Linked DNA regions of Homo sapiens: all the other regions are reported to be linked to region 1. The links are microRNA targets in miRTarBase. Many come from high-throughput screens and were not tested one by one. Region 1 holds a microRNA gene; each other region holds the end of a gene's coding sequence.

Region 1 (5,148 bases):
CCTCAGAGTGAGGAAAGGCAGTAGGAGGGGTCGGGCAGGGAGCCCGAGGCATCTGCCTGGCACTTCCCTAGACCATCTGCACTTCTGCTTCCAGAAATCATACAAAGTGGCCCCTGTGACCTGAGAGTGGGAGACCAGGTCTGTTCTGACCTGGGGCTCCGGGGGCAAGTGCAGTCAGAATTTCTATCCCTGCCTCAGCCGACTGGCTTAGGAAAAGGCTTCCAGAGAAGCCCCTCATTTCCCAGCTGGAGTGACACTCAGTGGGTCTTGAGCTTTAAATTCCCCCTGGTGTCTCAGAGGGCCTTGGGTCCTGTGGCATGGCTCCTGGCAGCCTGGCTGGTTTAATTTTGTTCCGGATTCTCCTGCCTCTGGGGCTAGAATTTTCACTTGATCAGTTGACTAACAAGTACCCGGCCATGCAAAGAGAACTGTGAGATACTGGTCTCCACCCTGAGCTTCATCTCCCACCTGCAACGTGGGGCTGTTGAAACCTACCTGCTCACTTTGGAGGCGTGTCAGGGGGACACCAGAGGGATGCGCTTGGGCAGCCTCTCTCCTTGACCATCCTGTGCCAGCCCTGGGGTACAGGTGAGAGTGCGAGACCATTGGCCCCTACCCACAGGGAGTTCCCAGGCCTGTACGTGGGATCCAGAGGCAGGGATAGGGGGATAAAGTCTGGCTTGGGGGATCCGCAAATCTCCCCCGCTCCCGGCCACCAATCTCATAAAGCATGAGGCTGTGGATCGTAATAGAGAATAGGGTGAGAGGAGGACTCTTACCCAGACCCCCAAACTCCCAGACACATCAGAGAATTCACTGTAGAAAGTAGAGAGAAGACTGTCGAAAGTAAATCTTCATAAACTGCTTTCTACACGGAGAAACCCGTCTGAACATAAAACGATAGAAGAACGAGAAATAGAAGTGAAAATGAAAAACCACCCAGCGTGTGAAGGCAAAATGTGCAGGCCTGTGCCCGGGGAAACTGATGGCCACAAATACAGCATGGAAAGTATTAACAAGCTTAATATATAGCAATTTTTAAAAGGCACTAAAACCTTCACAGGAAAGTAAAAGAACATGAAGCAGTAATTTGTGTTGGATTATGATGGATAATAATCATATAAAAAGTTTCATTCTCACTAGTAATAGAAAAAAAGGCAAACAAAATCAAGAGCGTGTAAAAGATCTTCCATCTTGATAGACACATCCCTGGGGTGTGACGCAGCCTCACACGCGAGGGTGACGACTAAATCTCTCCGGAGAGTCATCTCACTCCAAGAGGGATCCGCGCCCGTAATATGTCCCAACCCTCTGCTGCCGTGAAATCACTCACCGCTTCTTGGAATCTCTTCTAAGGAAATAAGCAGAGATGCAGACAAAGATTTTTATAAACAGAAGGTCACTTTCATTTTATTTTAAATGGTAAAAAAAAAAAAAAGTAGTATTTTAAAAGTTTTTTCCCCTCTCAGGAATTTTGAATGGAGACTTTGGAGCCAAATGTCTATCTAAAAATAGAACATTCTGGAAATAACAGTTGTGTCTACAGAAGAAATGTCTGCAGCTCCCAAATCAGTCCTTTTTCAGCTCCAGCTGCACACATCAATAAGAAATTAGCAACGATGTAAATACCCGAGAGTAAGGAGGTAGATAAATAAAAGATGAGGAGGCTTCCTTGAGTTGAAATATTTTGCAGCCATTAAAAACGAAGTTTATGGAGTTTTAATGACGTGGGAAAGTGCTTCTGATGTGAGGTTAAATGAAAAAAAAAACAGTATGAAAATCTGTATTTTAGTACCACTGCGACTGTGTAAATATACAAACCCATACAAAAAGAGCTGAAAGGGAAAACACCAAATGGTAACGGTGTCTATCTCCAGCTAGTGGAACCGTGGGGGGGGGGTGTCTTTTCTTCTTTATTTATATTTTGTATGTTCTTGAATTTTTCTACAAAGATCACCAATTACTTTCAGAAAATAGAATATACCCATCCTGCTCCCCACCACAAAATCGTGTGGGTCTCTGAATAGAAGAGACAGCAGAAAGGCCAAGAAGAGGGGAACATGAGCCAGGGTGGTCACGGCATGGGGCGGGGGGTTGACAAAGTTGGCGTCAGACCCCCAGGGGCCTTGAATGCCAAGCCCAAGAGCTTGAACTTCACCCAGAGCCCTATCTTCTGCCCATGTTCAAAGAGGACAGAGTGCCCCTTCTTGACAGTTAGGGGCTTCCAGGGGTAGATACAGGTGGGAGAGCAGGGTATTGTGGAAGCTCCAGGTGCCAACCACCTGCCTCTATTCCCCACTCTCCCCAGGGAAGAGTTTCACCCTGACCATCACTGTGTTCACCAACCCCACCCAAGTGGCGACCTACCACCGAGCCATCAAGGTGACCGTGGACGGACCCCGGGAGCCCAGACGTAAGTGCCACCGAGCCCCCTGAGCCCCTGCGCGGGGGAGGAGGGTCCAGTGCGGGAAGGACAGCAGCTAGGTCAGACAGATGGAGCCCTCCTCGGGGGGTTGCAGTCCTTGGCTCTGTGCCCCCACACACTGCGTGCCTGCTGGCAAACCCCTAAACCCTCTGGGCTTAGCCTGAGACCGTGGGAGGCCAGCGAGGAGGCTGGGAGTGGAGATGACTGTCCATGGAGACTACTGAGGGAGTCAAGGAAAGGAAAAGGATGGAGAAAGCTTTCAGATATGGCATTTGTCGGGTGCTTGTGTGTTTCTGGGTGGAGGTTGAGCCAGGCTTGCTTTACTCTGCCCCCAGCTTCTCTGCGGGTGGCTGAGGGATGCATGGAGGGCAGGAGTGATCAAAAGTCAGGGGCTGGTCTGGCTGTGAGGCCAGGCCTCTTCCTTGGAAACTGAGTCTTTGAATCTTAGCATGTGACTTGCTCAGGTCACCCAGAGTCCGGGCACCCAGACCCTATGAGCAGGGAGTTCTGGTCCATCAAAGCGAGTTTGTGTTTAATTCTCTCTGCTTGCTGAAGGTCAGATTAAGGCTGGGGAAGTGGGAGGGTAGGCTGAGGCTCTGTGTCCACAGAATGAATGAATGACTGACTGACTGACTGACTGAATGAATGAATGAATGAATGAAATAGAGCCAGCCAGCTTCCTGAGCTCCATCCCACCTCCCCAAGGCATTTTCAGCTTGGTGCACTGAAGGTTGGCCCACCCCTCTCTTTCTCAGAAATGTGACCCTTTGTAGTTTAGAAGACCTTTTAGCAGTCACTATTGAATGGGATCTTGATGACAGCAGAGCCAGAGGGGTCACCCAAGTTCCAGTGAGGAGAGAATCCAGGCCTGAGGGAGTTGGGTACCTGAATAGGACCTAATGCTGTGCAAGGAGCAGGAAGGCGCCCCAGGCTTCAGTCTTCCCAGAGGCAAGATTCTAGGCTGAGCAGGCCTGGGGCAGGAGGCCTGGGGCAGGAGGCCTAGCCCTGGGCTGGCCCCTCCCTTCTTGGGAGTCAGCTGGGCCTGACACCCCATCATCCAATTCCTGGGCCCATCCCAGCATCTGGCCACTTGGGAAAGGCTTGGAGCTGAGTCCAGCAGCCCTGGAAGAGTTTCCCTCCAGGGCTCTCAGGGTCACCTCTGCCAGCCCTGAGCCCCGGCACGCATCCTCAGGCCTGCACCGTCAGCTCCCAGCCAGCACTTGCCCTGGCCACACTCCTGCTGGTTCCCTCCTGCTGAGATCAGACATAGACCAGCCCATGCCCTTGGCCTTGGGCTTCATGACCCTAGGCAAGTCATGTCTTCTTTGTGGCCTCAGTTTTGTCATCTGAGAACTGGATCAGTGACTCCAGGAGTCTCAAGGTGGTGATGGCTGGGAAGCCCTCATGAGCCATAGACCACCATGGTGTAGAGAGCAGTTTCCAAGCCAGCCTTCCTGGCTGTGGGTCCTTGGGCTAGTCATCTCCGTGCCTCAGTTTCCTGAACTGAAAAATGATATTCGCACAAGCAGCTACCTCATGATGCTATTGCGAGGAAACAGTGGCTTAATCTATAGAAAGCACTTAGCGGTGGGGGTTAGCAAGGGATCCGTCACTTTAGCCAGGGCTGTTATCTGCAGTGTGACCTAGGGCAAGTCACTGACCTCTCTGGGCCTCAGCTCCCTCCTCCATGAAGTGTGATGATGCCACCCACCCTGCGGACCTGGAGATCAGGGGCGACATGTGGACAGCACGTGGCCGTAGCACAGAGGGGTCCCATGAGTCACTGGGTCCGCAGCGTTTTGTCGTCCTCAGTACCCAGCCCCCTTCCTGCACTCCCACCACCACCATTAGTCAACGGTGAGCTCTCTCATGGGCAGCAGCTGGGTGGCTGCCTTGGTAATAGAGGTGCAGGTATCAAGTCTCCATTGAAGGAGGTGGCAGCCCTGCCCTATGTCTCCAGGGGCAGGGTCAGCATGGACAGGAGCCTCAGTTGGGCTCTGGGTGGGGATGCGGCACTCAGAAGCCACTCCAGAAAGAGGGGAGCCACTCCAGAAAGAGGGAGGCACGGGACGGGGTCTTGACGCTTGGTGGGAAGATCCAAGGGACCGGGCAAGGTTGGCCCCTCTGAGAGCCCTCCATGCTCAGCCCAGCCCACCCCAGAGCCGCCCACTCTGCCCTGCTGGGACCCCTGGATGAGCATGGAGACTCAGCCCTGCCTGTGGGAGATTCCAGCAGAATCCCCTGCCTGCTCTTCCCTGCCTGGGTCTCCCAGACCTGAGATGGCCCCTTCTGGGGTGAGCTGGAAGGTAAATGCGTGGCTCAGGACGAGGCAACAAGAGGGAGGGACAGAGGCTGGGCCTGGAGACCCACGGCGTCAGAAGCCAGGCTTGCTGCACCACCTGAGACAGGTGACCTCCCTCTCTGGGCCCCGGCAGCGGCTGGATCAGTGGTTTTATTTACAGAACAGAGCAGAGATGGAGTCGGGGGGCAGTCTACTAGGTCCCCCATCCTTAGGACCTGCCTGTTCCTGTCCCTGGCATATCCTGGCCCTGAGATCAGGTCCCCCCCCATACCCTGGGTTGCAGCCCCACTCCTTTGTCTTTGGCCCTGGACAAATCCTTGGCCTTTCGGGTCCTCAGCGTCCCCATCTGTAAGAGTGAAGGGACCAGCTCAGCGGCTCCTGGTCACTGAGCAACCCCCTCCCTTGCGTCAGGCCCTGTGCA
Region 2 (5,000 bases), not on the chromosome of region 1:
AGAAGGGAGTTGGGAGCATGGAAGGAAAATAATAATAATAATTATTATTAACAATAATAACAAGATAACCAGTCCAGGAGAGAGGGAGCCACAGGAAGACCTAAGACCAAACGAAATATCGTAACACAAGGCGAGGCAGGCTTGTGGGAACCGGTCCCCAGCGGGCGGCGGCAGAGCGGGGAGGATTGGAGGGGCCAGGGCTGGGGGTGGCACGGGCTCTTGGGCCGCTGGGCTCCTCTGGGCGGGCTCAGGGCTGGAAGGCGCTGCCAGCTGTAGCCAGGCTCATACTTTTCAATTTGTTGTCCTTCTTCCACTTCATGCGCCGGTTCTGGAACCAGATCTTGATCTGGCGCTCGGACAGGCAGAGTGCGTGGGCGATCTCGATGCGCCGTCGCCGGGTCAGGTAGCGGTTGAAGTGGAACTCCTTTTCCAGCTCCAGGGTCTGGTAGCGGGTATACGCGGTCCGGGCCCTTTTCCCGTCCGGCCCGGTCATATCTGGAGCAGATAGAGGAAAGCCGCAAGGCAACATTATTCCGGTTAAGGGAGGGGGCACTGGGTGGGAGGGGGCGGGGGAGCAGGACCCAGGCGTCCCGGCACCCAGCTCACCACAGCTCCAATCCTCTCTACTCCAGATGCCCACATTCAAGCTCGATTTCTGCACCCCTTTCTACTGCATCCCCCACTTCTGCAGGCAGCCAGTGCGCCCGGCTTTGTCTCTTGCTCGCTCCTAGTGCCTCACCCTTGGCTGGGCTCAGGCGGCCGCTCGCCCCGGGAGGGAGGAGAGCGGTTGCACTTTTGCCCCGGAAAGCTCCTTTTACTGTTCACCCCTTCTTTGCTAGCGACAGTCTCAAAATTTCAGGGGTAAGCAGGACCCTTCCCCACATTATATGAACCCCATCCTTTATCCTAAAGCTGGTTCAGCTGCGCTAATAAAAACCTAAGCCGAAGCTGGAAACAAATTATTAAAAATACCCCCCTCTTAACAGAGAGACCCTTTTTGGCTCTGTCTACGAAGCTATGAGGCCCCTCTTAGATACTTCTCCCCCTTAGAAAAATGAATCTATATTTAGGGTAAAGCCAAGCTCTCCTTGTCCCCCCGATCCCACCCCAAAACGCAGAGAAGGAAAGCCGAGAAGACAAAAAAGAGAGAGAGAATTACCATGGCTGATGTGAAGCTTCCTCATCCAGGGGAATATTTGCGGAGTCTGCCCCTCGGGCGCGGCTGTGGAGGTGGCCATGGGCTCTGGCTGCGCCCGAGCTAGGCTGGGGCTGCTTAGCTGGCTTGCCGCTTCCTCAGGCTCCGAGGACGCGCTGGCCTCGTCTATTTCGGTGAAATTGGCGCTGGAGCTGGCTGAGGTCGCCTGGTCGGAGGGGGACGAAGCAGAGGGCTTGGCGCCGTGGCTGTCGCCGTTGGTGCAGGGCAGGGACTCGGGCGAGGACAGGGAGCAGCTCGAAGCCGCTTGCCTGAAGCGGGGCTCCTGGGCGGGCGCGGGGAAGGCGCGCGAGCTCTCGCCCACCGCCCCAAAGTGGCTGGAGGAGGCCGAGGAGCGGTTGACGCTGAGGTCCATCCCATTGTAATTGTAGCCGTAAGAGCCGGTGTGCATGGCAGCGGGATCCCTGTAAGAGCCGCTCAGAGAGCTGCCACTGCCATAATTTAGCAACTGATAGTCCGGGCCATTTGGATAACGCCCCGAGAAGGAGTTTACAAAGTACGAGCTCATTTGGGTGATTTTGGAGGGCTTGATTTGTGGATCGTGGTCGTTATAACCCTGTGCTTCACGATTTATGATGTATTAATGAATTATAGCGATGCACTGTACTTCGTTTTGCTATGTATGCGGCCAAATATGGGGGGGGGGTTGGAAGGGGGGTGGGGGGCGTTAGGGAATCACGTGCTTTTGTTGACCAGTCGTAAATTCTCGCTGATGACCTCAAGAGGTAATTCATGCTCTATGGTTACAAATAATGACGATCCGAGAATCGTTAGGGCCGATTCAATGCGAGCCTCCGAGAGAGGGGGAAAAAAGGAGAAGGGGGAGAAACAGAGAGAAGGTTGGCTTTGGCCTCTGAGCAGAGCGCGCCACCTCCCGGCGACCGACGGGAGCGCGGGCGTGAGACCGCCATGGCGGCGGGCGGCTGCCTCCCTGCTGGCTCCCTGCAGGCTCCCTGCAGTCGCCGGGAGAGAAAGAAACCCGGCCAAGGCTCAGCCACAGGGTTGAGCCTTTTAGAGCAGGGGTTGGGCTTTTTACCCACTTTCTTGTGGGTGGGGTTAGCCTCTCTATTTGGTTCTTTCTCCCTACATCATCATTGTCGTTATTATTTTAACTTTGGATGAGAAGATCAAAGATAGAGTTGCTTTTCCCTTTCTTGGGCTTTGCAAGTCTCCGAATTGGAGGCGGAAATGGGGGAAGGGTTGGAAGTTGTGTGTGAAAAACAATTATTGCAACGGGTTTTCCCCAGGAGCTTAGTCCGGCCTGCATCCTGGTGGAACTGCTGTTACCGGTCCACAGCGCCCAGGCCGAGCCGGCAGGGCTGGGCGGGAGGCTTGAAAAAGAAGGAGAAGCGTTCACTTCTCCTGGGCCACTTGGAAGTTCGAAATCCCCTTCCGGACCTCCTTGGTGGTCCTTAGCCCAGGCGTGGGGAGTGACAGAGCAGGACAGGGACCCCAGAAACCGAGCACAGCTGGGGCTAAGCGGCCTAGTTGCCGAAAAGACTGCAGCGGCCACCGCGTCTGCTGCTTAGTTTGAGTAGTAACATGTGTCTGAGAGTTTGTAAAGCGGGATCCCTTCCCCTCCTCCTCGGCTATTGCATTCGGAGGCCCCACTACAGGTCCCTCACTCGCAGCTAGGCAGTTTGAGAATTTGCCTGGTGGCAGCCGCCTTCCCGGAAAAGGGGTTCCAAGGACCCGCATGCTTTGCTGAGCACGCTGGGCGGCCAGAGACCGCCGCAGCTGGTCTCCTATTAGGAGGGGACTATTTTCTTTAAAAATAAGAAAGGAAGCGAGAGGGCGGAGGAATAAAGGAAAACAGTGACCGCAGCTTGCCTTCTGGGTGCCGGTGCAAGCAGAGAGAGAATGAGCCATTCTGGGTTGAGAGGATGACACTAAAAGCCCCATCACCTGGCCTCCTGCCCTGGGGTCTCCAAGGAGCAAGGGAAAGTTGTGGCCTTCGGCCTGTGCCTGGCTGGTGGCTTTACATTCCCCTACTTGAGGCTGATCTCCTACTTGAGGCTGATCTGCTACTTGAGGTGGGAAGGGGCACCTGGAGCCTTCAGCTGCAGGGTGAGAGATACCCAGTGGCCCCATTTTTCAGTCTCCAGAGCCACAGGCCAGGAGCGGAGGGCCAAGGCTGGCGAAAAAACCTGGCCATGTGGACGGGCCAAAGACCAGGGGTCGCTGCGAAGGTGAGGACAGAAAAGCGCTGCAGAGGCCCCCAGACTATGGCTCCGTCTCCGCCAGAGAGCTTTAGGGGCCTCAGTGGCTCCCTTAGTGCTGTGTATACACGAGGAAAGGCTAGAGAATGAGAGGGACACAGCACCTCTCCATCCCCCAAGTCTGCACGGGGAGAAGCGGCTGTGAGCCTCAGCACCAGGGAAACGCAGCGCTGGGGCCTGGGCAGGACTGATCGCTCCAGCCTTTATCTCAGCTGTAACTTCCCAGTCGAACAGGGCTCGCTTCGGCGGGCCAGGGCTCTCGCCTTTGCTGAAGAATTCTGGCTCAGGAAAGATGGAGAGGCTGGGGGTTGAGGAGAGAGGAAAAAATGGCAGGGGAGGATTGGAGGTGACCGAGCGTCGAGTTTTCACATCTTTATTATTGTTGTTGTTGTTGTTATTATTATTATTATTATCATCATCATCATCATCATCATCATCGAAGTATTTCACGTCCAGAGCTAAGACAAGACTACAAACACAACACATAGAAAATTAATAAAATAGAACTTTGTTTTCTTCTGAGGCTCCTCTTCTTACTTCTAGGTAGTATGTGCTCCTTCCAGTGGCTTTGGGGAGGGGGTGGGAGAGACGACAGGTCTGGGATCAGGGAGTCTTCAAGGCCCCCGCTGAGGGGACAGCGAATCTACCATTGAACCGTGCACGGGGGACATGGACAAAATGAGACGCGACAGGGACAAGAGCATTTTGCTCTGCTTCCAGGAAACATCAAGTGAGTCCGCTCCTCAGTTCTCACCAGGAAGCCTGATCAGGCTGAGGCGAGTTCCTCGGGAAGGAAGGGCGCGCGGGATGCTGGGTGGGCTCGAGTAGTGAGGCCTCAGAGCACCCGCCGGGAGCTGTGCGGGCGGGGGCGTCCAGGAGAGCGCTGGGCCCCGCCTGTCTGCGCCGGAGAGCAGGTCTCCTGGCTCCCCCACCCGAGAGCCTTCCTTCCCGGGTCTCTCTGACGCCCTCGGCTCCCCACAGGCCTTTCCCCTCGCGTCCTCCCTCCCTTTCCAGCACCTTCACTCGGCCTGTTTTTCTTCCTCCTCCTCGGCACTGAGCTGAGACGCGCTGAGCAGTTTGCTCTCCTTTTTCCACTTCATGCGTCGGTTCTGGAACCATATCTTGATCTGCCTCTCCGTCAGGCACAGGGCGTGCGCGATCTCGATGCGCCGCCGCCGCGTCAGGTAGCGATTGTAGTGAAACTCCTTCTCCAGCTCCAGCGTCTGGTAACGTGTGTATGTCTGGCGGCCTCGCCGGCCGCTGGGCCCAAAGGAGGAACCTGTTACGCAGAGTGGAGATGCTGAGGCCTGCGGTCACCGGGCCCAGGACCCCCTCCCCTAGTCGACCCTCGAACACAGACTCCAGCCAGTACCGGGATGCCCTCTATTCTGCCGGCTCCCTTCCCCCGTTTCGCACTCCTCCAGCGCCCCCTCCAGATTCCCTCCTAGTCTCCTAGGCCTGTGCCGTCTGTCTAGACTCTAGATGGGGGAGGGGAGGAGCAGTTTGAACTCCCACCTGAGCCTGGGGGGAGGGGCTGGTCAGGTGTGTCTCTTCCTAGTTGCATCTTG
Region 3 (5,148 bases), not on the chromosome of region 1:
GAGGTGGCAATGGGGCCAGCCAGGCAAGGCTGCCCTAACCTTCACACTGGCTTCCACGGGCAAAGTAAGCCCCTCAGGGCTGAGCTTCCCCAGGCTCCCCGACGGCTTGCCCCGCCCATCCACACTCATGGAAAGGGGGCTCTGCTGGGCCAGGAATGGGCAGGGGCAGGGTAGTAGGGGACAGAGGCGGTGCTTGGGGGACAGGCAGCCACTGCAACCCCACTCCCTCTAGTCTCGTCTTCACACCCACCCACCCACCCACCCTTCTGGCTCCTCTTGTCATTCACAGCTTGGCTCCCTGTCCCCCCATCCCACACAGGATGCTCCCTGACCAGCCTTGCCCCTCCCCCATCACCCTATTTTAATTTTCTGCAAGGCGCCAGTCACTAGGGAGCATTGTGTCTTATCCCTTCCCTGCACTTAGGCCCCTTATAAGCTAGGACCTGTCACTGGTGTCCTTAATTCCTGATGCCATCCCGGCCTCAGCACTGTCACAACCGAGTTTGTCAGCTCTAGGTCTCCTTTCCTCTCCTTTCCGTCTCTGCACTTCTGTTCACCCCGCTGTTACATTTCCAGGAGGGAGTGGGGCAGGCGACCAACTTCCAGTTGAGAACATGGGTGACTCTCGGCCAGCCTGATACTCCCCACTGCTGCTGCCCCAGCTGCCTCCCGGGGACGATCCAGGCCTGGCCTTCCCAAGCAGGTCTCTTTACTCCCACCCTCCTCGCTCCCCTGACAGCCCTTTTCCCAGACCTACCCAGACACGGGCTCCCCAGCCTGGACACAGGCTGCTCCCACAGGCCTCCTGCACTGCCTCAGGAGGGGAGCCCAGGTGAGGGATTCTTTGGTGGGCAGAGAGAGACTCTTCCTGCCGCGGGGAAAAGCAAGGCCGGGACCCGTGACGAGGTTTCCCCACCAACCAGGCTTTCTTGCCTTCATGCCAGACCTCTGTGTTTTGCTACTGGAAGGCCATAAGCTCCAACAGAGGGTTAGCTGCACCTGCTGTGCCCTCCCAGGAAGGAGCAGACCCATTGTGCTACTTCCCAGAAACAGCTTCAGAGGAGATTCTCCAACAGAGGCAGGCAAGCCCAGGTGTGACCTTGTTCCGGCCCAAGGCAGGAGGCCTCCCCGCAGAGGTCCAGGGCGTGGCACCCACACATCCCTCGCTCCACCGGGCCTCCATCTCCCCTCCCTCCCTGTGGCCCCCCCTGCCCTCTTTTCCTGGTGTCTGCCCTGCTGGCCTGCCCCAGACCACAGCCCAGCTCCACCATGCTCATCATCATCACAAACCCAGACCTTGGATGGCAACATTTTGTGAATACTTCCCTCCCGCCTGGGAAAAACTCATCCTGAGCAGGACGTGGGACACAGATGCAGGCCAGCCTCCGGGTGGGCTCTCCCCAAGCTGAGCAGTTGGGGCTCTGGCCTGGCTGGGAGGCCAGAGACCCGAGTCTTAGACCCCGCTCTGCCTCACAAAGAACCACATGAACTGGGTCTTCAAGGCCAGTTCCCCTCCTGGATCATCAGAGTCCTGCTCTTTGGAAGGGCCCCTGTCCCTGCAGTCAGAGAGTCTGAGGTTTCCTAAATATCTTCACGCAGAAAGGATGGGGAAATGGCAAGCGCAGGCCCCTAACTCCTGCTGCTGGGAACCCTCCCTGGGGCCCAGCCCAGGCGTGCTCCTTCTTCCCACGGGTTCCTTTCTCAAAGCCCCCACCCTCTCCCTGAAGCCCCCCACGAAGCCCCAAGCTCCTGGCCTCCTACACTCAGCAGTGTGACTGATCCTCCACCCCAGCTGGCCAGCCAATTCACCAGGCCCGTCTGGGAGCCCTGACTTCCTCATCTACAAAACGGGAACAAGCGGGACGGACAGACAGTCCCTTCCACCGGGACAAGAGCCCTTGAGGAGGCTTCCCTGGGGCTGCCCTCCCTGGCATGGAGGAGGGGAAGGAACTGGGGACAAGGGAGGTGGCAGTGGAGAGAGGGAGGGAGGAAGGGAGGTGGCACATGGGCCCAATGCTCAGAAACACAGGAGGTGGGTGTGGGGCAGGGCTGTGTCTTGGTGGCACCTGTTTTGGGTCTGTTTTTGCAGAGCTGACCCCTCCCTGGGTTTCAAGAGCTGCTCGTCAGATCACAACAGACAGAATGTGGGAAAGCAGGGCATCAGAGAGGGGGCGGGGGAGTCTGGACAAACTGGCACATACACGACAGATGTTTGCTCAGAAAAATACAGTAAAATCGTCATGCAAATATAACAGGGAGTCTGCTTCCTCACACCCCTGGCTTCTCTGCCTGCTTGCTTTTCTCAGTTGTGCCAAGGGGGTGTGAGGAGGGGTTGGGGGGCAGGTTTTGGGGGCCGGGGGAGGAGGTCTGCTCCGCGTATCCATGCCGCCCCCTCCCCTCCTCGCCCCAGGAGAACAGTCTTTTCTTTGCAAATGTCACCCTCAAAGTGAGCCCTGGGCTTCGTTAACCCCAAAGTTGGTGTGAGAGAGGTACTCAGCTGAGCCCGAGCCTCCTAGCCCTCTGCTGTCCTCCCTCACCCCCTGCCCCCAGCAGGAAGGTCGTTGGGGTCCCCAGGGGATGGCACTAGCTTTCCTGGTCAGAGCCCCTGCCCACCAACAGTGCCGGTCTTGGACCCATTCCAGTGCCTACCCTCGCCCCTCAGTCACACTCCCCAAATCTCAGGAAACCCATGTGGGCCACAGGCCCTAGACTGGGGGTCTCTGGCAGGGGCGTGGGGAGAGCCGGGGCCCCCCAAGCTGAGGTGGGTGGCAGCCAAGCGACATGTTGCTAGGCGGGCAAAGCTGCTAGTAGAGGCGTCCCCACACCCCGCTGGGCCAGCTCCCACCCAGAGGTGAAGGATGATGGACTCCGGCCCATCAGCATCCTGACTGGTCAAGACCCCAGTCTCAGGACCGCAGATTTGCCTCCCAAAAGAGCTGGCCCCAGGAGCTGCTGCCAGGCTGGCCCTCCCTCACCACCCTCTGCCACCGCCTACATGGACAGAGAACCCCAGAGCCCAACGGTCACTCTGGGCACCAACTGCCAGGCACAGGGTTACCATGGTGACAGAGGCTGGCTGGGAGGGGCTGGGGCGCCACGAACCCAGCCTGCTCCTCAACCCTCTCTCGGGTGGGGGCCTCACTGTTTGTGCTTTGTTTGATGTTGGGTGGGGGGGTCAGAAAGAGGGAAGTGGCCATTGCCACGGAAACATGGGAGCCCCTCTGGCCAGGGGGCCAGGCCTGGATGAGCAGCCCAGAGGGGATGGGTGAGAAAGCCCTCCTTCCCCGGGTGGGCGGCTGAGATAGGAGCCGAGATCCCACGATGGGGTCGGGCAGGTGGGGACACAGGCCATGGGGACAGGCAGGAAGTCCCCCATGACAGCTCCTCCCTGCAGCCCTCCAGGCATCACAGTGCACCGCTGCCCTTCTGCGGTGGGCAGGGGTCTCGGAGGACCAGAGAAGCTGGGGCCGGGAGCCTGCACCTGAGACGTCCTGGGAGCTGGCCTGCCCGCCACACGCCCCACTCTTCCCAGGCCACGTGGAAGACACTTGAAGTGGGCTGGTGGAATGTCGCCCTGCCTCGGCTCCTTTCCCGTCAACAGGACCCTCTCCCTTCTCCCGGGTGCCGGCATAGGGGTCAAAAGCCCCCCAGGATTCTGAATCACAGCTGCACACTCTGGGGGCACTGCCATGTGGCTTTCTAGGAAGAAAAAGCACCTGCCTGATTCCCAAGTCCCTCAGCCCCAAGGGACCACAGCTTCGGAAAGGGATGTGGGGTGGGCACAGGGCGGGCAGGGGTCCACAAGAGAGCTGCAGGGGGTTCCGGGACAGCACTGGGCTGGGAAGTTGGGGGACTTGAGGCTAAGCTGCTGTGTGACCCTGGGGTTGTCAACTCCCTTCTCTGGGCCTCAGTTTCCCCCCCTCTCTAAAGTGGAAGGAGACATTGCCCGATGTCTAATGCTAAATCTGCAGGTGACTTGACTCCCAGCTTGGGAAGGGACCCTCTCCCTGCCCTAGAGGGGCTTCAGTCCCTCTCTACTCCAGCTTTCTTGACCCCCACACCTGTTTCTAGCCCCAGACCCCCCAGACCCCACACCCTCTCTTGGCTTCCTTCCTCCCCCCGCCAGCCCCCCGGCCCTGCACACCCCAGCAGAGTCCCTGGGCAGCACAGTAAAGACGACTGGTTTCGGTATCAGTTTGTAAACTTTAAGGAAAATGTGTCTCTGTTTTCCTGTCCGTTATTGTCGGATGTTGGTTTGTTCACAGTCGGGTGGTGGTCAGGTGTGTGTGTGCGTGCGTGCGTGCGGGTCTGCATGTGCGTCCTCTCCTGGGCCTTGGCCCCCGAGTCTGCTCCCCGCCCTGGCCGCCTGGACCCTTCCCCCAAAAGGCCCCCAGCCCTCTGGCTCCGACCTCACCAGGGAGGAAGGGGGGGGTCACAGCTTCTGCTGGGCGGAGACCCCCTTCCAGTAATCAAGGATGTCATGCAGATCCTCGTCCTTGGCGAACTGGACCTTCTTGCGCAGGGCGTGACCGGCGGCCATGTACACCTCCTCCCGGTGGTGCTTCTTGTAGGGCCGGAAGCGCTCCCAGATCTTGTGCGTGCTCTCGGATGAGTACTCGGGGCTGGAGGAGTACCCTGAGTAGTAGTGTCTGGGGGAGAGCTGCGAGTAGGTGGAGTCACGCTTGGAGCGGGTCAGCGGCTTGAGGAAGGACACGCGCTGGCTCAGGCTGTCGGCACCCTCCTCGTAGTACAGGGCGGGAAAGCTGTGCCGGTGCTCGCTGCAGTGGTAGGCCGGCTTCACCTCCAGGTGGTGGATGCCCCCGCCCCCGCCGCTGCCCCCGCCGCTGCCCGCCGGCACCAGCGGGAGCCGGTCCAGCGGGCTGTTGAGGGGGCTGCCCTTCTCGATGTACTTGGAGTCGCCCTTAGCCAGCCCTGTGGCGGCCGGATGGTCGGGCACGTCCAGGCTAAAGACCTTGGCGCTCTTGATGGAACCACTGGACGACACGCTGCAGGTCTTGCGGGTCACGGCCGCGTCGGCGCTCAGCTGGCGCTGTAGTGGGTGGTGGGAGCTCTCCTTGTAGGGAGGCGAAAGGAAGCTGGGCCGCTCCAGGGCCCCGGGGCCAGTGGCTGAGGAGGCGGCAGCAGCTG
Region 4 (5,148 bases), not on the chromosome of region 1:
TGACTCCGTTTCCAAAAAAAAAAAAAAAAAAAAGCTAAAAGATGCTCATCCATAGAGCCGAAATAAGCTATGTGGGGAATCAGAACAGGATTGGATTTGGAATTGAAAAACTGGGACTTGAAGTGCAGGCTTGCAACTTCCTAGCAGTGGCACCATGGATGGCCATTTAGAGAGGCATGTCATTCAGTGCCAAAAACATGGAGTTCTGAAGGCACATCAACCTGGGCTTGAATACTGGCTCTGCCACCAAAGCCATTTACTGACAGCCTTCATGCCTTTTCACACGAGTGGTGGAACTGTGTGATCACAGTGCACCTTCTAATGCATTAGTCTACAAAGACTTTATAGAAAAAATGGAAAGAAGAAAAGCTTCCATTCACCCGATGAACAGAAAGAATTTGGATCTATGGCGGTTTTTACCAGGGCTGAGTCTTCCAACGAAGCCTGCATCTCCATCCTTTGATACACATGAGCAGGGCCCCCCGCATGCTAAGGTCCACGGCCCACCCCACCCCTACAGTCTTTTGTTAATGAGCCATGAGCAAACCATACACAGAAAGCAGCTTCTTTTTTCTTCAATTTAATTGAAGTTACTTAGAAAAATAATCAGGCTTGAATGGCTTTTCCTGGAGGAAGGTTCATGAACATTTTCACGCTTTTGTTGGCAATGTGGAATTCAGCTTTCTTTAACAGTACAGCAAGATACAGGGAGCGTTTTCTACAACAGGCTCTCTACTGCATACAAATATGTGAAAAAAGAAAATCACACTCCACAAAGATGTGACATTACATGTCCATATGCCATACTGAGCATGCTCATAAGAAAGTAGTATGGGCAGCTCCTTCTGGACCTAACAAAGTGTAGCAGACTGAAATTTGCCTGTTATCAGCCAAGGGTTAAGCGGATTCTAGAAGGCCTTGTTGCCTGTAGGGTTCTAACTGGTTGTGATGGAAAAAGGTTGGAGGAAATGCTGGTGGTGGGAACTCGGGGGAGTGATGTGGTCAGTCCTGCTGACATAGAGGTGGGCAAGGAAGGGATTTGGTCACTGGGATTGCACAGAATGGCGCAGCTGAGATTGTGTGTGTGTGTGTGTGTGTGTGTGTGTGTGTGTGTAGGGGAGGACTGGCTAGGAAAGCAAGCAGAGTGCCTCTGCTTCTTCTGCCAACTCTATCTCAGCACTGATCCAGACCCCACCAGCCAAGCATTTGTGGGACCCGCACACTTTGCTCTGGAGCTTTCTAGTAGCCTGGATTAATCGACCCCTGTGCTTCATGCCTTTGCCACCAGGAGAACCAGTGCAACTGAAGTTTCCACTGCCTGCTGCTCTCCTGTGGCATCCACATCCTGAATAGGCAGGAGGGTGCAGCCCACCTGGTGCACAGGGAGGAGGAGGAACGTCCCCTCTGAGATACCACAGGTCAGCAGACCACCTCTTCCCAGACCAGCTGGGGAGGGCAGGGAGGCGGGGTCTGGAGGAGCTGCGGGAATCATCTAGAGCTTTCCAACCAAAGGGATAAAGTAAGCAGGAATGTCCTTGCAAATACTGCCCTGGCTGTACCTGGTCTTTAAAACACAGCAGCACCTTTGAGAAGTGGCTGGGAGATGGGACGCCTGCCTGTACTTTTCTCCAGCTAAGCATGCATAGAAAGCAGTTTCAAATATTCCTCTTTAAAAAACACAAACTTTCATTTTCCAGGCACACTTCACAAGTGGATTTCTTTAACCAAGGACACAGAATACTTTCTACATTCTGCAAAAACAGTTGAATCCATTTTTTTTAAAGTTTCAATGCCATTAGAAAAGAAAATGTGAACACAAAGCAAAACACGGGGAGAAAGAGTCCCTCATTCCAGAAACCTATTGATGTCATGTCCCCTGAAGGACAATCTTTCTCACTTAAGAGAGAGAAGCCAGATGAAAGGCCATCTTCACATGACAGTGAGCAGGCTTGCACAACTGACCAAAGACGGACACAGAAATGCAAAGCAACGTGAATTTCCATTGAAAACCCCCCAAAAAGCACACAGTGAACGATTCCAAACTATGAAACTGAAGAAGCACTCATCAAGAGATCATCTGTTCCCACTGAGCATCCTTTTGAGCCTGAGGAGTAGGGAGCCACCCTGGGCCCTATACCCCACTCACCCTCTCCTCTCTTCCTTCTGTCCACACCACCCAAGACTTCCTCCACTCCCTCTGGGAGGGATAGAATTGTAGTCCGTGGCAGTATCCAGGATTAGAACCATTGCTTCATTAAATAAAGTACCTCTGTTGCTATAAACCAGATGGAGACTGTGGTGCTATTTTGTATTTTTTTTTTAATGGAAGGGTGTTGGGGTGGCAGTTTTTATCCTTGAAGACCTCAGATATGCTAAGTCAACCTAAGCAAAGTATACTCGGTGGAACCCTAGCTCTGTGGGGTGATCTGCAAAATAGAGTATCCTGGTCATGTAAGTTCAGGAAATGCTACAGACTCAAGGATTATTTTTGGGGATTCACCATGCACAGCACACATTGAAGGCTGAAAAGTCCTTGCAGAAAGGAAACTGACTTAACTTTGTTTCTTAAGGATATTTGACCACAAAACCCTTAGTCTGCATCACACCAACCTGATGCCTCCTGGAACCTGTGTTCTGTAGAATGCGTATTAGAAAATGTTGGACAACCTGTTTCATTATCAGAAGTCCCATTTCTGAGGACAGTGTTCTCTGCCTGGAAATAAGGTCCAGATTCTCAATTCCAGGGACAGCCAAGGTCTGTCACTCTACCCAGTAAAACACATTGCGTAAATCTCCATCCATCAAGGGTATAGTTGCTGCGCCCTTCACAAAGGGGAGAGAGCTCGGAAGAAGGTACACAACGTTTTATAAATAGCTTCAGCTACCTTCTCCGGCCCACATCTCACTCACGTTAAATAAAATAATTTCCCCGGTGAGATGTTGCAGCTGCTGCCCACTGAGCTTGCTGTGAGCTTTACAATACAATCTTAATAGTTTCTGTGAATAAATTATTCAATTTTTGTTTGTTTAGAATATCCTCACCCCTTCACTATATACGGCATCAAAAACAAAACAAAAGGCAAAACTTACCCACACCCCATCCCACCCTCCCCTATTATTAAAACTATTATTATTATTATATACAGTAGCTGCTACCAACTCATTCACTAGCTGTAAGAGGGATGTGGCTCAAACTTCAACTGAGAAGCATCAGCAATGGCTGGAAATGAGAAGCATGTTTAGATGTTAATTAGCAAGGAACAGGAAATGAAAAGTTTCCAGGCTTCCAGAGGAAATGGGGCATGGATTATGGAAGGCTGTCCTTGCTGCTCATGCATGGCAGTTACCAAGATGCTGATAGTCTTTCAGCCTCTGGAGGACGTGAGAGGGTGTGCATGTGTGTATGTGTACAAATAGTCCACCTCTGACCTTCATGAGGGGTAAAAACCATTGCAAATCCCCAAGTGTACGAGTCTCACCTTGGCATTTCACACTTGTACGTGGCAAGCAGTAGAAGACAACACTTCTACATGGGGATGTGGTGCTAGGCTGAATGGAGATGACAGTAGGAGGCACTTGAGGAGTGTTCCCCTTTCCTCACCCAAGGCAGACATTGCTAATCAACCACAGCACTCTTCCACACTGTGCCTGGAGAATCCATTCTGGGGCTTAAAGGCAGACATTACCCATCAGTTGGAGCAGGCACATGATAGGACACATTTTTTTAGCATCTTTTCTGTTGGTCAGTGAGCTTGGGATCACTCACGAATATAAAGTGGCCTGCTCCGAATGTGAGGTTTTCAAATATGGGCCATAGAAAAATGTAAATTTGTAGGGGTCATGGACCTTCTGCTGTTGCTCATGAATAGTCCAAACCTCATGTCAAGTCCATGAATAATATCAGGGGTTTGCTAATTGTCGAGCTGGATGCTCTATGTCACATAAAGCTTTTTGAGGGCCAAGACTATTGGGTTTGTTCAACGCTCTATCTTCAGGGCCTAGTATATAGTAGATGCTCAATAAATATTTGTCGAATATAAAGCAATAGCCACTTCACCTTCACTGCAACTGGCACCGCCAGTTTAAAATTCCTGTTAAAAAAGCCTATTCTATCAGATTGCTAATTCTGGTGAAAAATTGTTACAACCAACTTTCTCCTTGGGTTAAAAAAAAATCACATTTCTTTAGTGCAAGGGACTTTCAGGTCGATTGGAATTGGTTTGGAATGAGTCCCTTGCAAAGATGACTCTAAGTGCAATAGCAACCTACTTATTTCTAGCAGAAATTCAAGAATGGTGGCATCCATACACATGACAATGGCTGTTATCACATGACTCCATGAGAGGTTAGTAAGGAGAACATTCATGCCCCCAAATGAGCTGTAGCAAGCAAAGCAGGAATCATAGATTTCTTCTGGAAAGATGTTAGAATTTTGCTGCCACAAAAAGAAATAATGAGACCATGTTTAAATAACTATAAATAATATTAATTAGAATTTATGGAATGCACAATTCATGGAATTCACCAGAACACAAGAAACCTTTGAGACAGTGTTGCAGTATTCACTTCTACAGACAAGGACGACCCATCCTATTTCCCCTGCAAAGACAGCTGTCCTTCCCTACGAAGGATTTTAAATAATTCTCACTATGCTGCTCGCAGCATCATCCCCAAAGAAATATTAATTTACAAAATAACCCAATATCCATATAATTCTTTTGACAAATAAAAATCTTAAATTAAAAAGCATGATTCTCTCCCTCTCCCCACCCCCTTTATTCCAATTTCAGGTAGCTTGGCACTGAGTAATTGAACATTAAAAAATCGAGTTTGTAGACTTCGTACAGCTGCGTTTGGTGCTCTGAGCTGATGTTCTGGAAGAATTCTGTGGTCATTTCATCAGTAGTTCTCGTAGACTTTGCATAGGTGGGGAACTTCAGGTAGCTGCCCACTCCTGCCAGCTGCAGGACGTAATTAGAATCCTCTTCCAGTGTCTCGTACTTGCCCACGAGGTCATAGTGGATGTGGCAGGGATGGCAGAGTGAGTAGACGGTTTGCCAGTGTTCGTTGAAAGGCTCCTCCCGCTGGGTGTGTGGGTCGATGAGATAGGCCACAAACTCCTCGAATTTGACATCGTCCCCTTTGCGC
Region 5 (5,137 bases), not on the chromosome of region 1:
CATTTCTCATGGCATTAAGATCACTGGGAAGTGGGGTGCTAGCTCTGTAGAAATTAAAATAAAAATGGACAAGGAGCTTGCCTTAAAATATCAGAGAGGCAGCATTATGTTTTGAGAGCCAGAAGGCTTTAGTACAAATCCTGGCTCCACCACTCCCCGAGGGCAAGCCACTTAAAGTCTCCCTGTCCCAGGTTTCCTCCTTGGGACTGTCGCAAAGATTCCATGAGTTAATAAACGTAAAGTGATTAGAACTGTGCCTGGCACAGAGTGAATGCCATAGACATATTAGCTATTGCTATTATTATTATTCACTATAATTTGCACATTGCATCAAGTAGGTTCTTATTCTAAAAGTTTAAAATAAATAAAATAGTGCATTTCACTGGAAGGCACTCACTTATGCATTAAGAGAGCAGATAAGTCAGACCCTTGACTCTTCTCTGCAAAAGCACAGCATGGCTAAAAATTGCTGTCTGGGGAATGAACTGCTTGGGTATGATACTGGGACAGGTGACCCCATTCATGTAACAGGAAGGAAAAGAATGTTGCTTCAAATCTCCAAAAAAAAAAGTTTATTTATAAAATACTGACAGTTTGACAGGACACGGGACTTCTTGTGGTATATATTTCAAATCAATTTCTTTCTTACCTTTCATTTAAAAAATAAACCTGCTAACACGCTATATGACATAGAGATATATATTTTTTTCTTACAGACAGACACCTGCCATAATGAATACTCTCCCCATAATTTTTTGTTATATCTTTTAAATCAAAAAATAAAGATTTGTGTTGATTTTTGTTTCTGGAGTCTAGATGGATGGAGAAAGGTAACACGTTTAAATGCTTTTGGTTATTCTGATGGAAACAAAGAGAAGGGGGGTGGTCCCGAGGGGGCACCTGTGCTCAGGTGGTGGTCAGGATTGCCATGTGCGCATGCCCATGGGTGTCCCTGGATAGGGCCATACAGAGGCACTGGGGAGCGGGTGGCGGCTGCTCAGATGGTCTCCCCTTTACCTTCCTGCCCACCAGCCCCTCACCCAGGGTAGGCACCTTCAGATGTGCACTCTGGGAAGCTGAGGGAAGCCCCTGCCCAGCCAGAGTGGCACTGTGGTGAGGCTCTGGCACCTTTAGAAGCACTGCCCAGGGAGGCGTGGGCAGCAACAGAAGGCCTTGAGGCAGCGTGCACCAGGTGGGGGCAGCCCCCGCTGTGTCCTTGTTTCCTCTAAATCACGGCAGTGCCAGGTTTGGGGGTAGGAGTTTTGGGGGCCGGGGGGTGAGGGATGGACAGAAGGGGAGGCAGCCTGGGTTTGCAAACTCTCTGGAGCCCTAGGAGGATGGTGGTTCTGGAGCCCAGAGCATCTTTTTGGTTTGTCTTGGCAGTGTGGGTGTGGAGCTGACGTCAACTCTGGAGGCGCAGCCAGGAAGGGGAAAGCCCTGGTGTGCCCAGCATGGGCTCCTGGGTGCAACACTGGGAGATTGCTTAGGGCACAAGGAGGCAATGCCAAAGGTGCCAGGTGTGTCCTGGTGTGAACCTGCTTTGGGTGGAGTCCCACAGGCAGGGGCCCTGGCATCACTGGCACGGAAAATCACAGGCCAGAAAGGGTCCCACTCTTTCTACAAAGGGCAGGGCCCACCACCCCTTTCTAATGTGGCCAGGTTTCTGGGAGGACGGTTGGGAGCCTCGGCTGTGCCAGTAGATATGTAAACAAGGGCAAAGAGACGTGTCCTGAAAAAATCTAGAGTTCCACAGCTGCAGGCCTGGGCTTCCAGCTGTGGCTGGGGCTGTGGAGACAATATTCCAGATGAGTGGGTATTGACTAAGTGTGGGACTTTCACCATGGGCCCAGCCTGATCTCATGGGCTTGTCTAAATTTGCGTGGTGTCCTCACCCTCTCAGACAATAGATCCCAGCCACGCCCCAAGTGCAAGCAACCCAGGCCACCTGTGCCTCACAGGGGAGAGATGGCTTCAGCCATCAGAGGGAGTTCAGGAGTCTCTTTGCTAACACACATACAGATGTGTGTTCTGTGCATATTTGTGTGTGCATGTGTGTAAGCACAGGCGTGCATGGGCACCATCCCGCATGTACACGTAGGTGTCAGCATGGGTGCGAATGAGCGTGTGGGGAGTGGGGGGGTGGAATATCTTAGTGCACCAGGTGATTCATTAAAGGCAAAGGAAAATTGACCTCATGTGCAATATATACACAGACACAATGTTTTTACTCACTCCTGCTTCCTCCCAAATAATCCCTCACTGGGCTGGGCTTAAATAATTCCCTAATGCAAACTGGGAACTTCCTTAAATGGTTAAATGCTCAGCAGAGAGGGAAAGGGATGAAGTTATTTAAAAAAAAAAAAAAAAAAAAGATGAGAGGAAAGAAAAGAAAGCTGTGCGGCACGATCACAGGCCGGCAGCTGCAGATGTGCTGCCATGGAGATGCCAGATGCTGCAGAGGGTGGGGGCGGAGGTGGCAGGGGTGGAGCAGGTGTCCAGCTGACTCCACTGCAGCCCCCAGACAAGTCCAAGGAGGCCCCGAGAGCACCTTACTTCCTGGAGGGGCAGAACCTCAGCCCTTGGTTCTCCTTTGGGGAAGATTGTGCTTCCCTTCCCAGGCCTCCTTATTGGAGAAACCGCTTTTTGGACACTGGAGCTGGGCTGGCCTGTCTGCTGAGCCATCTTCCAGCATCTCCCCGTTCACATTTCCCAGGGGTCAAGTGCTTCAGGAAAAACTCATGGCTGGGTGTGCCCGTTCTTTGGGCCCCAGACCCTGACTTCCCTTCCCGGTCACCATTAGCACAGTGACTGACTTGGGGCTGTAGGAGAGTGGTCCAGGCTCTCTCTTACCTTGGCATGTTTCCCAAATCTCCTACTTGGGCTTCCTTGAACTCTGCTCACCCACCCCAACAGAGCATCATCTCTTGGGCAGGGCCAGCAGCGCCTGTACACAGTGCACAGAGGGAGCCCTGCTCCACGAAGGGGCTCACGCTGAATCAGACAGGCCCCTGTGGGCCATCTGCCACCCATCTCAGCGGTGGGGCAGGTGTTGGGCTGGCCTTACAGGGCTGGCTGAGGGCACAGAGGGCCTTGGACAATGTATGGAGTTAGATAGAAAGGCTTCTCCCTAAACCCTGGCATCCGTAAGTACCAAGTGGACGGGAAGATCCTGGCCACTGGATGTGGCTTTTTGCAGAACACTCCTTGGAGCAGATTGTGTATGTGTATGTGTGTGTGTGTGTGTGTGTGTGTGTGTAAAAGCATTCCCTCCCATCAGCTATTCTTGTCACTTGGTCCCATCTGACCTGCCCCTGCTGGGCGTGCAATTCAAATGCTGGGTCCACTTTGGACTGAGCTTCCTGACCTGCCCCTTCCCCTCCCCGCCCTGGCCAGGCGGAGCCCAGCCTGGAAGCTGTTACTGGGGGTTAGGGTGTCTTTGCCTTTTTGCCTGTAAACTGGGTGCTAGGCTGACTGAGCAAACTCTGGGTATTCCAGCCTCTGGACCAGGGACTTGGGCCACCCCTCTGGGCTCCTGTGCCTCTGTGCTTAGGAGGCTGCCGGGTGGCAGTGAGAGGGACACAGATCTGAAAGTGAGTGTGCTGTCTGGCTAGGAGGGCCCAGATGAGTTTGTTCTGGAGAGGATCCCTAGACCCTGTTCCTTGTAAGTGCATGGGAGATGTGTGTGTGTGTGTGTGTGTGGTGAGGATCTATCCAGTGGAGAGTGACGTGTCTGCCCAGAGGGAGATCCCTCAGCTGTGCCCCACTCCCCAGCCTTGGGAAGCTGACTACCCCTTTAAAGAGAGGACGGATGGAACCTGGATTGGAAGAAAGAGAACAGTCAAAGTGTCATTCTTATCTTGCCCACAATGCGTTAAACCTAATCATCCCACAGTGCCAAGGCCAGTCGCCTTATTTACACCTCTGCTCCCCAGACTTCACCTTTCCTTGTCCATGCTCAGGAAAGTCAATTCCAGCACAGGGAGGCAGGGGTCAGTTGTGGGGGGTTTCTCCCCTACCCTTGGGCTCTCTTCCTTGGATTCAATATTTTAAAAAATATGCAGGAACAAGGAAGGCGCTAAGCAAATTCTCACCCTTTAGTTTTTTGTTTTTTGTTTTTCTTCCTTTTTCTAAATAAACCAAATGCTTGGTGGAGAAGTTGAGCAGGGGAGATGGGCAGTAGAGGTTGCCAAGACAGGGCAGGGGGTCTGGATGAGGCTGTCCGATGCCTGCCAGCCACAGTGATGGTGCATGGAGGGAAGGAGGAGCAGAGAGAGAAGATAGGCGTGGCCTCCGGGATGCCCATTCTTTTTGCAGAGAGCAGCGGCAGTGGGTCCAGGGGTCCTGGAGGGGCTGGAAGGGGGCAGCTGGCTGGACATCCAGAAGCTTTTTCTTCCCTCGGCCACGCCTGCCTGGCGGCCTCCAGTCCTTAGCCTCCGCTCCCTCTCTCTCTCCAGATGCCCGCCCCACTCCGTGTCCATAGCAGTGACACAGCCACTTCCCCAGCTCCGTGTAATTCCCAAGGGAGCAGTGAACCCCACCATCTCAAAGCTGAAGAGCTGCTGGCCACACACATCCTCTCACGGTTTTCTCCCTCCTTCTGAACGCCGGCTTTGCTGGCCCTGGAATCTCTGGAAAAATAAACTCAGGAGGTGAAAAGTTGACTTGGTTTCTTGGTGTTTTTGTTTTCTGGCAGGCAGTGAGAGGAGGGGTGAAGGAGGAGTTTGGTGCCATTTCTCTTTCTGCTTTTTCCTCTTCTGATGTCAAACAAATGATGAAAATCCTGCTATGGGAGCCCGGGAGCCTGGGGCCAGGCTGCTGGGGGGACGGTAGAGGGTGCTCTGCTGACTTGGGGGGTTAGGGGGGTTCTGGGGCGTTGGAGTCCGACTGGCCTTGGGCCGAAAGAGGCTGCCCTGCTGGGTGCTGGTGCTGTTGGTGACGGTGGTGTGGTCTGGCTCACCCGAGTCGCTCTCCGTGTAGCTGTAGGCCTGTGCCCTCGAGATGCCCTTCTGCTGTCGCCGCCACGAGTTGTAGTATGTGGGGTCACTGATGTAGTGGTTGACAAAGGAGTGGGCCTTCTGGTGGTTTGAGTCGACCTCGTACTCGCTGTCACTTCCCTGGGAGGACAGAGAATCAGGGT
Region 6 (5,148 bases), not on the chromosome of region 1:
TCTTGGAGTCGACCAAAGTGGGTTATTTTATTTAAACAATTTTCTTGAGTTTCATTGTGTCTGTCACATTTTTTTAAAGTAATTTGATTTTATCTAAAAATAAAACTTAATGTAATGGTTTAGGGGGAAGAAAAAGTTGCTGTACTGTAAAGCTTACAGATTTGTAGAAGTTTTCTTTAGAGGGGTGAAGTGGGTCTTTTATATTAAAAAATGCTAGACTTGTGTCTAACAGGTTTTTATAAAGGTGTTTCTTTGGTCTTGTTTTGATTATTTCATTGTCTGCCACCTAGTTTTCTTTGCAAGTTGATATATGCAGAGTGTCAGAGAATAAAATAATGATTTTTTTAAACTGCTCTTTAACATTTAAAAGATGAGTCTGCCAAAAGGAAGACCTTAACTATTTTCTAGTCTAGTACTTCATTAGTTGGCAGTTAAACATCTTATTTTTAATTTCCATTTTATATCACTAAGACAAATAGTATTTTTCTTCTTTTCTATATTAAGAATTCAACATCACTATTAGAATTGCATCATATATAATGGGCATAATTTTCTTTTCTAGGATGCTGAGTATCTACATGGATACATTAAATATATTTATGCGAGTTGCAACTATGCTGGCAACTGGAGGCAACAGAAAGAAATGAAGTGACTCAGCTTCTGGCTTCTCTGCTACATCAAATATCTTGTTTAATGGGGCAGATATGCATTAAATAGTTTGTACAAGCAGCTTTCGTTGAAGTTTAGAAGATAAGAAACATGTCATCATATTTAAATGTTCCGGTAATGTGATGCCTCAGGTCTGCCTTTTTTTCTGGAGAATAAATGCAGTAATCCTCTCCCAAATAAGCACACACATTTTCAATTCTCATGTTTGAGTGATTTTAAAATGTTTTGGTGAATGTGAAAACTAAAGTTTGTGTCATGAGAATGTAAGTCTTTTTTCTACTTTAAAATTTAGTAGGTTCACTGAGTAACTAAAATTTAGCAAACCTGTGTTTGCATATTTTTTTGGAGTGCAGAATATTGTAATTAATGTCATAAGTGATTTGGAGCTTTGGTAAAGGGACCAGAGAGAAGGAGTCACCTGCAGTCTTTTGTTTTTTTAAATACTTAGAACTTAGCACTTGTGTTATTGATTAGTGAGGAGCCAGTAAGAAACATCTGGGTATTTGGAAACAAGTGGTCATTGTTACATTCATCTGCTGAACTTAACAAAACTGTTCATCCTGAAACAGGCACAGGTGATGCATTCTCCTGCTGTTGCTTCTCAGTGCTCTCTTTCCAATATAGATGTGGTCATGTTTGACTTGTACAGAATGTTAATCATACAGAGAATCCTTGATGGAATTATATATGTGTGTTTTACTTTTGAATGTTACAAAAGGAAATAACTTTAAAACTATTCTCAAGAGAAAATATTCAAAGCATGAAATATGTTGCTTTTTCCAGAATACAAACAGTATACTCATGATTGCTAAGTGTTTTTTTATTTTTGCATATTTATTGAACTGTCTAATTGAATACAGCTTGCTCTTGTCACCTCTTCAAGCTTTCAAGCCTTTATAGAAAAGCTTCTTTGTGGCTTACACTGGAAATTATGAAAGCAGTTTTTCTCCTAAGACTTTTGGTTTCTCGCATTGCCTCTCAGACTAAGCACTAAAAAGCAAAGCAAAACAGAACTAGTTCTGTCTTAATGAAATATATCAACCCAAAAGTGTAATGAGGAAAATGCTTCATTAGTTTCCCCTAGCAGACTTTTACTTCTCTTACACTGCTACACCATTACTTTCTTGAGACATTTGTAAGTTCTTTGATACAGAAGAGTTATATTTAGAAGTCTTTAATGAAGGGAAAGAAGTCTGTATGATGACTGAGGTGATTGCTCTTTTTGACAAATGTTTATTACAGTAATGCAGAAATACTGTTAATCATCTCAAAGTACATAGGAGGCTTATTTCTGAAACAAAGGTTTCAGCCAGATGTTGATTAGTCTAATTTTTCCAAGTGAATCATATGCATGCCATTTGAATAGGGATTTCTTCAAGAAAGCAACTTAGTTTCTTGCCAGTATAGTATAGTGCAGTGTGATAAGTACATGATACTTGTAGCTAGACTACCTCTATTTGAATCTCAACTCTTATTTCTTATGTGACCTTGGGCAAATTACTTAACCTCTGTGTGCCCAGTTTCCTCTCCTGTAAAATGAATATATTGGAACCTGTCTTATAGGTTTATGGTTAAACGTGCAGGCACTTAGTAAGCATTACATAAGTCTTAGCTATTGATGCTTTTTTTTATTAGTAAAAATGTAAATGCCAATTTTCTATTTTTCTTCTCCCCATCCTGATACCCATATCAGTGTGATCTTAAAGTGCCTGTTTTCCTTAGTCACCTTTTAGAACCCAAAGTTTATGTCTTTTTTAAATTAATATCACACACAAAATGATATCATTTCAGTGATGGTATCAGGCAGTTTATCTAGAAAACCAAGGATTTTTTTACTGTTTTACTTTTTTTTTAAATAGAGGGGTTCAGTTTGGTCTTAAATTGGATTCAAACAATCCACTCACCTTGGCCTTCCTAAGTGTCGGCATTACTAGCTTGAGCCACTGCCCCCATCCTGGGTTGTTTTGTTGTTGTTGTTGTCGTTGTTGTTAATTTAATGACATTATGTTATTGGACTTCTTCTGACTTTGCTAAGACAATGAAGGCTATGCAAAATAATATATAAAATGTGGCCGGGTGCGGTGGCTCACGCCTGTAATCCCAGCACTTTGGGAGGCCGAGGCAGGCAGATCATGAGGTCAAGAGATGGAGACCATCCTGGCCAACATGGTGAAACCCTGTCTCTACTAAAAATACAAAAATTAGCTGGGCATGGTGGTGTGCATCTGTAGTCCCAGGTACTTGAGAGGCTGAGGCGGGAGAATCGCTTGAGACAAGGAGGCGGAGGTTGCTGTGAGCCAAGATCGCGCCACTGCACTCCAGCCTGGCAACAGAGCAAGACTCCGTCTCAAAAAGATAAATAAATAAATAACATATAAAAGGTAAGCTGATATATAAAATGTGATCGTTTGTAAAACATACCAGTTGTAAATGGTAATAGAAAAAAATCACTAGTTTCTTGGCTCTTAACATACCACAGAGTTTTTGTTTTTTTTTTTCCTCATTCACAGCGAAGAGTAATGACCTGCAAAGTGATAGGCTTTAGGTAAAAAAGTAAATGTCCATTTTTCATTTTCTGACATCGTCTGAAATACTAGAGGATAAATGAAACATGTTTTAAAATAATCCCGAGAAAAAAGGCCCTTTGAGTTGTTGCTTAAAATGGCATCTACTGAACAGTCAGAAAACATGAATTTTTTATGTAACAGGTGCCATGCTAGCTGGGCCCAGGGGAGACAATGATGAATAAAAGTAATTGCCTTCTAAAGCATATCAAATCCGTGTAAACACGGCCATAGGCCATTGGATGAGTGTCACAGAAAGGTAAGCAAAATGGAAATGCAGACTGAATAATAAGTTTCTAAGATGGCCCAGGAGGAAATTTTCAAGAGTAAGCATAGTAGGTAAAGCACACAGAAAAAGGTAGTATGGGCATTTCATACAATGGATGCTTGATGGGGGAGGGCTGCAGGGAGAGATGGACAAAGTGGAAAAAGATGGTAAGAAATGGAAATTCTCTTGAAGCTGGATTTCCCACTTGCTGCGGGTGTGTGCTTTGCTTAACATGTTAAAACCTGCAGGCGTGGTGGCTCATGCCTGTAATCCCAACACTTCGGGAGGCTGAGGCAGGAGGATTGCTTGAGCCCAGGAGTTCAAGACCACTCTGCACAACAAAAAAACCCATCTCTACCAAAAATTTAAAAATCAGCAGGGTGCAGTGGCGCATGCCTGTAGTCCCAGCTACTCAGGAGGATTGCTTAAGTCTAGCATTTCGAAGCTGCGATTGTGCCACTGCACTCCTGCTGGGCAAAAAAAAAAAAAAAAAACTAGGAAGACAGGCAGGCATGTTTACCTTGAAATTGTATCTGGGTAACGTGTCCAGGTTAAAGGTACTAAAACTGAGTGATACCCAAGACATATAATTCCAGTGGGGTAGGGTGGCCCAGCTACACTAGTAATAGCTGATGTTTGAATTGAACTCTTTGCCCAAAGTTTGATCTTTGCACAAGGTCATATGGCTGGGAAGAATAATGAGACAAACTCCCTAACCAATTATGCCGGGAGGATAGATGATAGATCTAAAATCGTGTAGGACACAGCCATATAAAAGAAAGCAAGCTTGTCCTTATAGAGTTAGCTGGAGGCCATCATCCTGTTACAAACAACAAATTAACCCAGGAACAAAAAAACAAATGCCCCATGTTCTCACAAATGGGAACTAAACATTGGCTACTCATGGACATAAAGATGGTAATAATAGATACCTGGGATTCCTAGAGGAAGGAGTGGGGCAAGGGTTGAAAACCTATTGGACACTGTGCTCGGTATCTGGGTGATGGGATCATTGGTACTCCAAACCTCAGCATCACGCAGTATACACAAGTAACAACCTGCACATGTATTCCATGAATCCAAAGTAAAAGTTGAAGAAGTAGAATTTTGCTTGAGAATCACAAAAGCACTATACAAATTAAATAGGTTGAGATTCTATTAAAGTGTAAGTCACTTTTAAAATCTTGGGAATCAGTATTCTGAGTAAATTAAAGGAAATAGAACAGGAACATTTTAGTTTTCTGTGAAAAAAAAATTGACCTCAGTGAAGGATACTGGAAATCATCGTGCCTTCCTCACATCTATTTCTTACGGTACAAAATAGTCCTTTTTTGTATTGCCCAGTTCACTCCGAGCTACAAATCAAAATTGACCATTTTTTAAGGTCAATTTCATCAATAAGATGAAATCCTAAATGCATTCCATTTTTAACTAGCACAAAATGGAAATGACTTTTCAGGAATAGATTAGAAAGCTATGACCTTGAGGACTTTCCACCTTTAAAGTAAGATTCTTTTGTGAAGCAATTCAGGAAGATGGACGGTGAACATTCAATTCATTAACATCTGAGAACCATGAAGAGAGTATTTTTTGCCACAAGCAAAAATGAACCTAAATAAAAGACTGGTGGGGGAGGAGAATCATAAC

The links. Region 1 holds the annotated microRNA hsa-miR-6731-5p (UGGGAGAGCAGGGUAUUGUGGA, at 2,242-2,263, shown strand). A microRNA usually pairs through its seed, bases 2 to 8, with sites in the 3' UTR of a target mRNA and lowers its output. Matches are read on the target gene's strand: a 7mer-m8 pairs with bases 2 to 8, a 7mer-A1 pairs with bases 2 to 7 and ends in A, and an 8mer does both.
Region 2: the mRNA of HOXB6 is a reported target of hsa-miR-6731-5p. Seed matches in the 3' UTR shown: 8mer at 4,013-4,020.
Region 3: the mRNA of ELFN2 is a reported target of hsa-miR-6731-5p. Seed matches in the 3' UTR shown: 7mer-m8 at 2,735-2,741.
Region 4: miRTarBase lists CHST11 as a target of hsa-miR-6731-5p. Seed matches in the 3' UTR shown: 7mer-m8 at 2,834-2,840 and 7mer-A1 at 1,598-1,604.
Region 5: miRTarBase lists SDK2 as a target of hsa-miR-6731-5p. Seed matches in the 3' UTR shown: 7mer-A1 at 3,671-3,677, 7mer-m8 at 1,959-1,965 and 7mer-A1 at 1,473-1,479.
Region 6: miRTarBase lists GHITM as a target of hsa-miR-6731-5p. Seed matches in the 3' UTR shown: 8mer at 837-844.

Annotation. Positions count from the first base shown.
Region 1 is chr1:24,916,505-24,921,652 of GRCh38, reverse strand. It overlaps MIR6731 (microRNA 6731), which reads left to right and starts at 2,237; the gene lies at 2,237-2,308. RUNX3 (RUNX family transcription factor 3) reads left to right here. Exons shown (of 5, transcript NM_004350.3): 3 at 2,309-2,413.
Region 2 is chr17:48,591,962-48,596,961 of GRCh38, forward strand. It overlaps HOXB6 (homeobox B6), which reads right to left. Exons shown (of 4, transcript NM_018952.5): 4 at 3,790-4,711. The coding sequence ends at 4,452. It overlaps HOXB5 (homeobox B5), which reads right to left and starts at 1,818. Exons shown (of 2, transcript NM_002147.4): 1 at 1,160-1,818; 2 at 1-495. The coding sequence starts at 1,721. The coding sequence ends at 248. All of the region lies in intron 1 of HOXB-AS3 (HOXB cluster antisense RNA 3), which reads left to right. RefSeq lists a silencer at 1,442-1,491 and enhancers at 1,748-2,255, 1,957-2,026, 2,256-2,761, 3,804-4,475, 4,533-4,702.
Region 3 is chr22:37,368,640-37,373,787 of GRCh38, forward strand. ELFN2 (extracellular leucine rich repeat and fibronectin type III domain containing 2) reads right to left here. Exons shown (of 3, transcript NM_052906.5): 3 at 1-5,148. The coding sequence ends at 4,433. Among named protein-coding and RNA genes, the nearest start is that of ELFN2, 56 kb to the right of the region's middle. RefSeq lists an enhancer at 1-365.
Region 4 is chr12:104,757,431-104,762,578 of GRCh38, reverse strand. It overlaps CHST11 (carbohydrate sulfotransferase 11), which reads right to left. Exons shown (of 3, transcript NM_018413.6): 3 at 565-5,148. The coding sequence ends at 4,776. Among named protein-coding and RNA genes, the nearest start is that of MIR3922, 170 kb to the right of the region's middle.
Region 5 is chr17:73,333,827-73,338,963 of GRCh38, forward strand. It overlaps SDK2 (sidekick cell adhesion molecule 2), which reads right to left. Exons shown (of 45, transcript NM_001144952.2): 45 at 558-5,114. The coding sequence ends at 4,761. Among named protein-coding and RNA genes, the nearest start is that of CDC42EP4, 24 kb to the left of the region's middle. RefSeq lists an enhancer at 2,906-3,805.
Region 6 is chr10:84,151,702-84,156,849 of GRCh38, forward strand. GHITM (growth hormone inducible transmembrane protein) reads left to right here. Exons shown (of 9, transcript NM_014394.3): 9 at 563-1,867. The coding sequence ends at 647. Among named protein-coding and RNA genes, the nearest start is that of GHITM, 15 kb to the left of the region's middle. RefSeq lists an enhancer at 3,611-4,124.